2 linked regions of the Homo sapiens genome follow. The protein of the gene in region 1 purifies or fractionates together with the protein of each later gene. This does not show direct contact. Each region holds a gene or a part of one and is shown on either strand. Other genes may lie near its edges.

Region 1 (4,366 bases):
CACCTGTGGTCCCAACTACTTGGGAAGCTGAGGTGGCAGGATCACTTGAGCCCAGAGGTCAAGGACGCAGGGAGTTGTGATTGTACCACTGCACTCCAGCCTGGGTGACAGAGCAAGACCCTGTCTCTCTCTCCCTTTTTATTTTTTTTTGAGACAGAATCTCACTGCGTCGCCCAGGCTGGAGTGCAGTGGCATAATCTCGGCTCACTGCAACTTCCACCTCCCGGGTTCAAGCAATTCCTGTGCCTCAGCCTCCCGAGTAGCTGAGATTGCAGGCGCCCACCATCAGGCCTGGCTAATTTTTGTATTTTTAGTAGAGACGAGGTTTCACCATGTTGGCCAGGCTCGTCTCAAACCCCTGACCTCAAATGAGCCACCCATCTCGGCTTCCCAAAATGCAGGGATTACAGGCATGAGCCACCATGCTTGGCCAAGACCCTGTCTCTTTAAAAAAAAAAAGAAAGAAAAACAAAAAAAAAAAAAAGGAAAAAAGTACAACTATGGCAGGGCTGCAAAGGAGGCAGGAGGAGGTGGCAGAGCAGAAGGCTGAGGGATAAGAGGAGTTCACTATGCAGAGAGGGACTTGAGAGACTTCTAGGCAGCGAACACTGTGTATGAGCCCAAGAGGGAACTACAGGGCCCTGGACCATCCGGGCCCCGGTCCTCCACGGGCCTCGAGAGAAGGGGAGTTCCTGTCCCCTGACCCCAGCATCTTGCTCTGTCTCGGCCACCCCAAACCAAAGACTGCACTGGTCCCCAAGGTCAAGTCTCCCCCTGCCTCTGGTCAAGTAAGGAGTGCCACCAACTTTGAACCAGTCCCTTTCCACCTCCAGCTGCTCCAGACCCCGGATCTGGAAGGGGGCTGGCCATGCTGGGGTCTCTGGGTGGAGCTGTCTGGCCAGGACTTCCGTCTGAGATGGGATTTCTGGACAGAACAATGGAGCGCAGAAGCTCCAGCAACGTGTGCTCTGCAGGGAGCCCAGGTCAGGTTTGGAGAGGAGTTGCCCCGGATCCTGCAGAGCTTCCCCACCTGACTGCCACCCCTCCCAGCACCTACCCGCACCACTGCTCTCCGCCAGCCCCCACTTCTAGTACCTTGGCGCAAGGCAGGCTTCCTTTGAGAAACCCATTGACCCTTTCCTGCCACCTCTGAAGCTCTGCTCAAAGCATCTTTGTTTGAGGCTGGTCCGGTAAAGCCACAGCCCCGCCCCGGCCCTGTTCATTACTCCTTGGCTGAGCCTCGCGCTCTCCTGGCACTTTAAGCCCCCAGGCCCTCCCTCAACCCCAGTCAGCAGAAGGCGCCAGGCTGTGAGGGTGAGAGCAAGCCAGGGGCTGTGGGGGCTGCAGGGGCAGCCAGTGGGTGAGGATGAGGGTGAGGACGAGGAGGGGTGAAGGATGGGGGAGGGGGTGAGGATGAGGGAAGTGGTGAAGATGAGGGAGGGGAGTGAGGAGGAAGGGGGTGAGGATAGAGGAGGGGGTGAGGATGAGGGAGGGGGTGACGATGGGGGGGTGAAGGATGGAGGAGGGGTGATGAGAGAGGAGTGAGGATGAGGGAGGGGGTGAAGGATGAGGGAGGGGGTGAGGATGAGACAGGGGTGAGGATGAGGGAGGGGGTGAGGATGAGGGAGGGGAGTGAGGAGGAGGGGGCTGAGGATGGAGGAGGGGGTGAGGATAGAGGAGGGGTGAGGATGAGGGAGGGGTGAGGATGAGAGAGGGGTGAGGATGAGAGGTGAGGATGAGGGAGGGGGTGAGGATGAGGGAGGGGAGTGAGGAGGAGCAGGGGTGACGATGGAGGACGGGGTGAGGATAGAGGAGGAGGTGAGGATGAGGGAGGGGGTGAGGATGAGAGAGGGATGAGGATGAGGGAAGGGGTGAGGATAAGGGAGGGGAGTGAGGAGGAGGGGGGTGAGGATGGAGGAGGGAGTGAGGATGAGGGAGGGGGTGAGGATGAGGGAGGGGGTGAGGATGGGGGAGGGGGATGAGGGAGGGAGTGAGGATGACCGAGGGGGGTTAGGCTCCAGGGCTTCTGTCGAGACCAAGGATGCCCAAATATCTGGGTGGTGGGTGCTGCATACCTGGGCCCTGGGCAGAACGAAGGGTATACAGCCTGGGCCACCAGGATAAGTCCAGAACCCACCAGGAGCTGAGGACAGACAGAAGGACCACGGAGGGGGTGACGGGCTGGTGTGAGGATTGGTGCCCCTGGGCCAGGACTCTCCTCTCTTCTCCCTGCTGGCTCCAGACCAGAGTCCAAGCCCTAGGCAGTGCCACCCTTACCCAGCCCAGCCTTGAAGACAGAATGAGAGGGGTTTCCTGTCTCCAGGTCCTGCTCCTTCTGGTGCTGGGTGAGTGGGGACAGGGACTGGGGGTGAGGGCCGCAGACACCTTGGCTCCCAGTTCTCCCATCTCACTGCTCCCTGGGCCGGGCTCCCTGGAGCACTCTTGGGCTTTCTAATCTTGATTCCAAGGGCTCAATCCTCTCTGCCACTGACCTTGACCTCACCACACCTCGATGTGCTTGTCGGTGTCATGCTCATACGCCCTTGCCCCCTGCACCTTCACAGTGCTCTGGGGAGGGTTAAATAAGATAACAGACGGCACGAAAGCCTGGCGCAATGTCAGGGCAACATTGTTTCACCCTCCTTCCTCATCTCTGGCCTCCCCTCCAACTCCGTTATTTGACACCAAATCTATAATCTGGTCCCTTCCCTGCTTCCTCCTCCAGGAGCTGCTGGGACTCAGGGAAGGAAGTCTGCAGGTGAGGAAGCCTCGGAGTCCACCCGAGTCAGCCCCTCCTGGACCTCGGCCCCGTGTCTCCCCACCAACACCTGCCTCCCAGGCCCCAGGTCCTCAGCCAACCCTCACCGCCCCTGGTCCTTTTCTAGCCTGCGGGCAGCCCCGCATGTCCAGTCGGATCGTTGGGGGCCGGGATGGCCGGGACGGAGAGTGGCCGTGGCAGGCGAGCATCCAGCATCGTGGGGCACACGTGTGCGGGGGGTCGCTCATCGCCCCCCAGTGGGTGCTGACAGCGGCGCACTGCTTCCCCAGGTCAGCGCTCACCGAGGGCCCAGGCGGGGTGTGCAAGGAAGGCAAGGCCCGCAGAGGACCGGGCGTGGCCTGGCAGAGGCGTTGGGGTCGAGGCGGGCTGGAGGGGGTCGAGGACCCGGTGCTGGAAGTAGTCCCCCGCTCCTGTCCTGCAGGAGGGCACTGCCAGCTGAGTACCGCGTGCGCCTGGGGGCGCTGCGTCTGGGCTCCACCTCGCCCCGCACGCTCTCGGTGCCCGTGCGACGGGTGCTGCTGCCCCCGGACTACTCCGAGGACGGGGCCCGCGGCGACCTGGCACTGCTGCAGCTGCGTCGCCCGGTGCCCCTGAGCGCTCGCGTCCAACCCGTCTGCCTGCCCGTGCCCGGCGCCCGCCCGCCGCCCGGCACACCATGCCGGGTCACCGGCTGGGGCAGCCTCCGCCCAGGAGGTAAGGCAGGAGGGCGGGGCTCCGAGGCATCCGGGAGCCCCCACGTCCTCCTCCATCTGACTGGAAATCCCAGCCCCTCACTGCCCCAATCCAGGACCCAGCGCGGCTTCTAGGGAACAAAACCTCCTCTCACTCAGAGCTCAGCTTCTCCCACTGGCCCCCGCTCCACGCCTTCCTCTCAGAGGTCCCTCCTCTTCCCCCAGTGCCCCTCCCAGAGTGGCGACCGCTACAAGGAGTAAGGGTGCCGCTGCTGGACTCGCGCACCTGCGACGGCCTCTACCACGTGGGCGCGGACGTGCCCCAGGCTGAGCGCATTGTGCTGCCTGGGAGTCTGTGTGCCGGCTACCCCCAGGGCCACAAGGACGCCTGCCAGGTGTGCACCCAGCCTCCCCAGCCTCCGGAGTCCCCTCCCTGTGCCCAGCACCCTCCCTCCCTGAACTCCAGGACCCAGGACATCCCAACTCAGGCTCAGGATCCTGGCCTCCAACCTAGAGGCACCACGCCAGGGGTCTGGAACCCTGAGAACTGAAGTCCTGGGAGGGCTGGGACTTAGGCTCCTCTTTCTCCTGCAGGGTGATTCTGGGGGACCTCTGACCTGCCTGCAGTCTGGGAGCTGGGTCCTGGTGGGCGTGGTGAGCTGGGGCAAGGGTTGTGCCCTGCCCAACCGTCCAGGGGTCTACACCAGTGTGGCCACATATAGCCCCTGGATTCAGGCTCGCGTCAGCTTCTAATGCTAGCCGGTGAGGCTGACCTGGAGCCAGCTGCTGGGGTCCCTCAGCCTCCTGGTTCATCCAGGCACCTGCCTATACCCCACATCCCTTCTGCCTCGAGGCCAAGATGCCTAAAAAAGCTAAAGGCCACCCCACCCCCCACCCACCACCTCCTGCCTCCTCT
Region 2 (3,358 bases), on another chromosome or scaffold:
TGAAAAATTTGTATTGTGTTCAATATTGTTTGAAATTTGGGGTTGTTGCATAAATGATTATGGAATAACATTTGGTTTTAAAATAATATAAACTGACATGTTATGCTACCTGTTACACAATTTGGTTTTCAGTTTTAATTATATGAAGCTGGTAACAATCGTTTTTGTTGTAAAAGAATTATTTTTCACTAAACAGTATGTTTAAAACTGACTGCCATGAATGAGTACTAAGTCTTTTGTTGTCTGACAATAAGCACAAAACAAATTAATTGATATCTTTGGTACAAATTTGATATTTTTGTGAAATCACCTCATAATTTTATTTAGTGTTGAAGAAACAACATTGGCCCCTTGCCTTGTTCAGACAGATTTGCGTATAATGTAAATATATATATTAGTGGCAGAAACAAAGTACTGTAGAAACCTAGAAGAGGGAGAATTCTGCATGAAGTCTGGGAAACTCAGCAGAAATGGCGTTTGCAAAGGTACAGTGTGGTATGTTGGGTGATGGGGGACTTTGTGAGGGACAGAGTGGAAAAATTTTTAAGAGGGGCTGCCAAATTGCAAAAGAGAAGAATTTTTTTTGTCAGTGATTCCTAGTCTTTTTGGAATCCTACACCTTCTCCCCAGAAAAATTCATTCTAGTCCAGGGTTTATTGTTTGTTTTTTCCCTATATTTGACAGGGTCTGTCTCTGTCACACAGTGCAGTGGTGCAATCATGGCTTACTGCAGACTCCACTTACTGGTCTCAAGCAATCCTCCCCACTTCGGCCTCTTAAGTAGCTTGGACCACAGGTGCACACCACCATGCTCAGTTAATTTTAATTTGTTTTGTAGAGATGGGGTCTCACTATATTGCCTAGGCTGGTCTTGAATTCCTGGGCTCAAGTGATCCTTCCACCTCTGCCTCCCAAAGTGTTGGGATTATAGGCGTGAGCCACCACGCTTGGCCAAATCTGGAGTCTAAAGGGTATACAAGGTTTTTTTTTTTCCCATGTTGGCTTTTATTTGATGTTATAAAGTCTTCATGATATGAATATATTTTTTAAAAAGGTGTCATGTATATTGTCATGTAACATGATTCATGCCACTTCATTGTATTAAATACGTTTAAGATACAGTTTTTGATGTTAAGAATGATATCCTGAGAAGGCCTATCTCCTTCAGTCCTTTTCCCCATTTTTCACCTTTTAACTCTTGCTTCTGAATCTATGCTAAGCTACTTACTAGATGTGTGATATTGGTAGTTTTCTTACCTTAAAACCTCATTTTCATCATCCATGAAGAGGCTAACAATAGTACTCCCTGTTGATAGGATTGTTGTATTAAAATATAAGCATTCAGCATAGTGCCTGACTTAACGGTAGAGATTCAAATGGTAACCTCCTTCCAATGCCTTCCTCCCCCCTTAACTCTGGAGATTCCATTTTTCTGTAGTGAAGTGTTTTAGAATTTTCATTGTTTGACTATGGTTCATACATTGATTTTTCCAAAATGAGAAGAAGTCTTATTTCTAATGCAAAAATGTGAAAAGAACAGTTGGAACCTAAAGTGATAGTGGATGAAGTGTCTGAAGTGACTGCCCTATCAGAAAAGGATGGAATAAGAAGAAAAGACTGAAGCACCTAAATGTGTATTTTCTTGAGGAAATTACACCCCTGTGTAAGAGTCTATCCTATTTGAACATTTCTAAAAACCAGCCGAAGAATCTTCAGGTTCATTGCGACTGAAAGATAAAGTCTAGCACTGAAGTGGTTTTTAAGATTAGGAAAGGCCATCAGAGAAATGCAGTTATTTCTCCCCTCCATCCTTCCCCCACAAAAAAAAGTCTAAGCCTCCGATTAATCGACAACAACGAAATACAGGAAGTATTGGCTTAGTGACCTTTTAGGATATCTGTCCGACTTACATCCCTTCTCTGAGCATTACTTTCTGCCACCTTCCGTGAGGAGCTGTTCAGAAATCAGACAAGGAGTGGACATCTGGTCAAAGTTGAGCCAATTAGATGATTTCTCCTGAGAATTTGGAATTGGAAAACTGATGTCTTGGGAGGTCACATCTGGAACATACATGGGAGGCAGAGAAAGCAAAGATGACATTCAACCCCAGAAGAAAAAGAAAATGGCTTTCTTGATTCCTGATAACTTGGCAGTGTTTGTTCCAGTGTCTTGCATTTCACTATCTGCATTTCATCCTCCTGGGGTTCCACAAGATAGCCTTAAAACCTTACAGAGAGACTCCCCAACTTAGTTTTTTCTTAAGTCAGAAGGCTGTTACTTGCTACCAAATAATGCCAACTAAGACAACTGAGGTACAGTATATTCTCTCGTAAAACACCATAGAGTTGATGACTTGATCCTATAGAAAAGGGTCCCCAACCCCTGGGCCACAGACCGGTACTGGTCCCTGGTCTGTGAGGAACCACCTGGGCCACAGACTGGTCCTGGTCCCTGGTCTGTGAGGAACCAGGCCATACAGCAGGAGGTAAGCGAGCATTCCTGCCTGAGCTCTGCCTCCTGTCAGATGAGCCACAACATTAGATTCTCATAGGAGTGCGAACCCCGTTGTGAACCCCGCATGCGAGGGATCTAGGTAGTGCCCTCCTTAAGAGAATCTAATGTCTGATGATCTGAGGTAGAGCAGTTTCATCCTACAACCATCCCCACCCCCCGACCCCCATCCATGAAAAAATTGTCTTCCTCAAAACTAGTCCCTGGTGCCAAAAAGTTTGGGGACCGCCGTCCTAGGAAATACCAACAAAAAGTCACGTTTATTGCCTGCCAAGTGAGTCAGGTTTAGACAAGGCAGAACTTAGTATATAGCTTGGATGAATCAGAAAGGGTGGGCCTTGAAAGACTGGTAGAATGTGTCCAAGAAAACTGATTAAAAGCCTTAGAAGTCCCTCTACAGTTTCAGGACGCCCTCTTAACAGATGGCTGTATCTTTATCTGTGGTTGGTCTTGTGGAATACTGACTTTCTGCCAGCATTAGCCTGTGTTTCTATGTCACACCAAGTCACGTATATTTTCATTGTGTGTTAGGACTCAGAATAGGTTTGGGTCTTTCTTTTAATTATGTATACCCAATTACTTAGTCCTCCTCACACCCTGATCCTTTAAAAATTCTTAAGTTGTGTTAATTGCATTTTTCTCAATTCTACTCCTAGTAACTCTGTGTGTTTTTTTCCATCTTTATTCATTTAGTAAAGTTGAAACCTTTCATAGCATAATATAGTGATTAAGTGCATAGGTTTGGGACTTAGACACACATGGGCTTGCTTGTCTCCCAGTTCTGCCGCTTACCACCTATGTGACCTTTCACTCTTTACCTTTCCACTCTTAGCCTGTTCTCTAACTA

Evidence for each region.
Region 2: the proteins of PRSS33 (region 1) and SP3 purify together in Homo sapiens (affinity purification with mass spectrometry; one large-scale study listed by BioGRID and IntAct). This does not show direct contact.

What each region holds. Positions count from the first base shown.
Region 1 is NC_000016.10:2,784,481-2,788,846, reverse strand, and holds the start of PRSS33 (serine protease 33 precursor), read left to right. Parts: upstream 1-1,286; 5' UTR 1,287-1,314; exon of another isoform or gene 1,315-1,372; intron 1,373-2,242; 5' UTR 2,243-2,299; coding exon 2,300-2,345; intron 2,346-2,725; coding exon 2,726-2,758; intron 2,759-2,885; coding exon 2,886-3,048; intron 3,049-3,200; coding exon 3,201-3,472; intron 3,473-3,675; coding exon 3,676-3,845; intron 3,846-4,044; coding exon 4,045-4,203; 3' UTR 4,204-4,366. UniProt on the Homo sapiens protein: Serine protease that has amidolytic activity, cleaving its substrates before Arg residues.
Region 2 is NC_000002.12:173,903,312-173,906,669, reverse strand, and holds part of SP3 (transcription factor Sp3), read left to right. Parts: 3' UTR 1-3,358. UniProt on the Homo sapiens protein: Transcriptional factor that can act as an activator or repressor depending on isoform and/or post-translational modifications. Binds to GT and GC boxes promoter elements. Competes with SP1 for the GC-box promoters.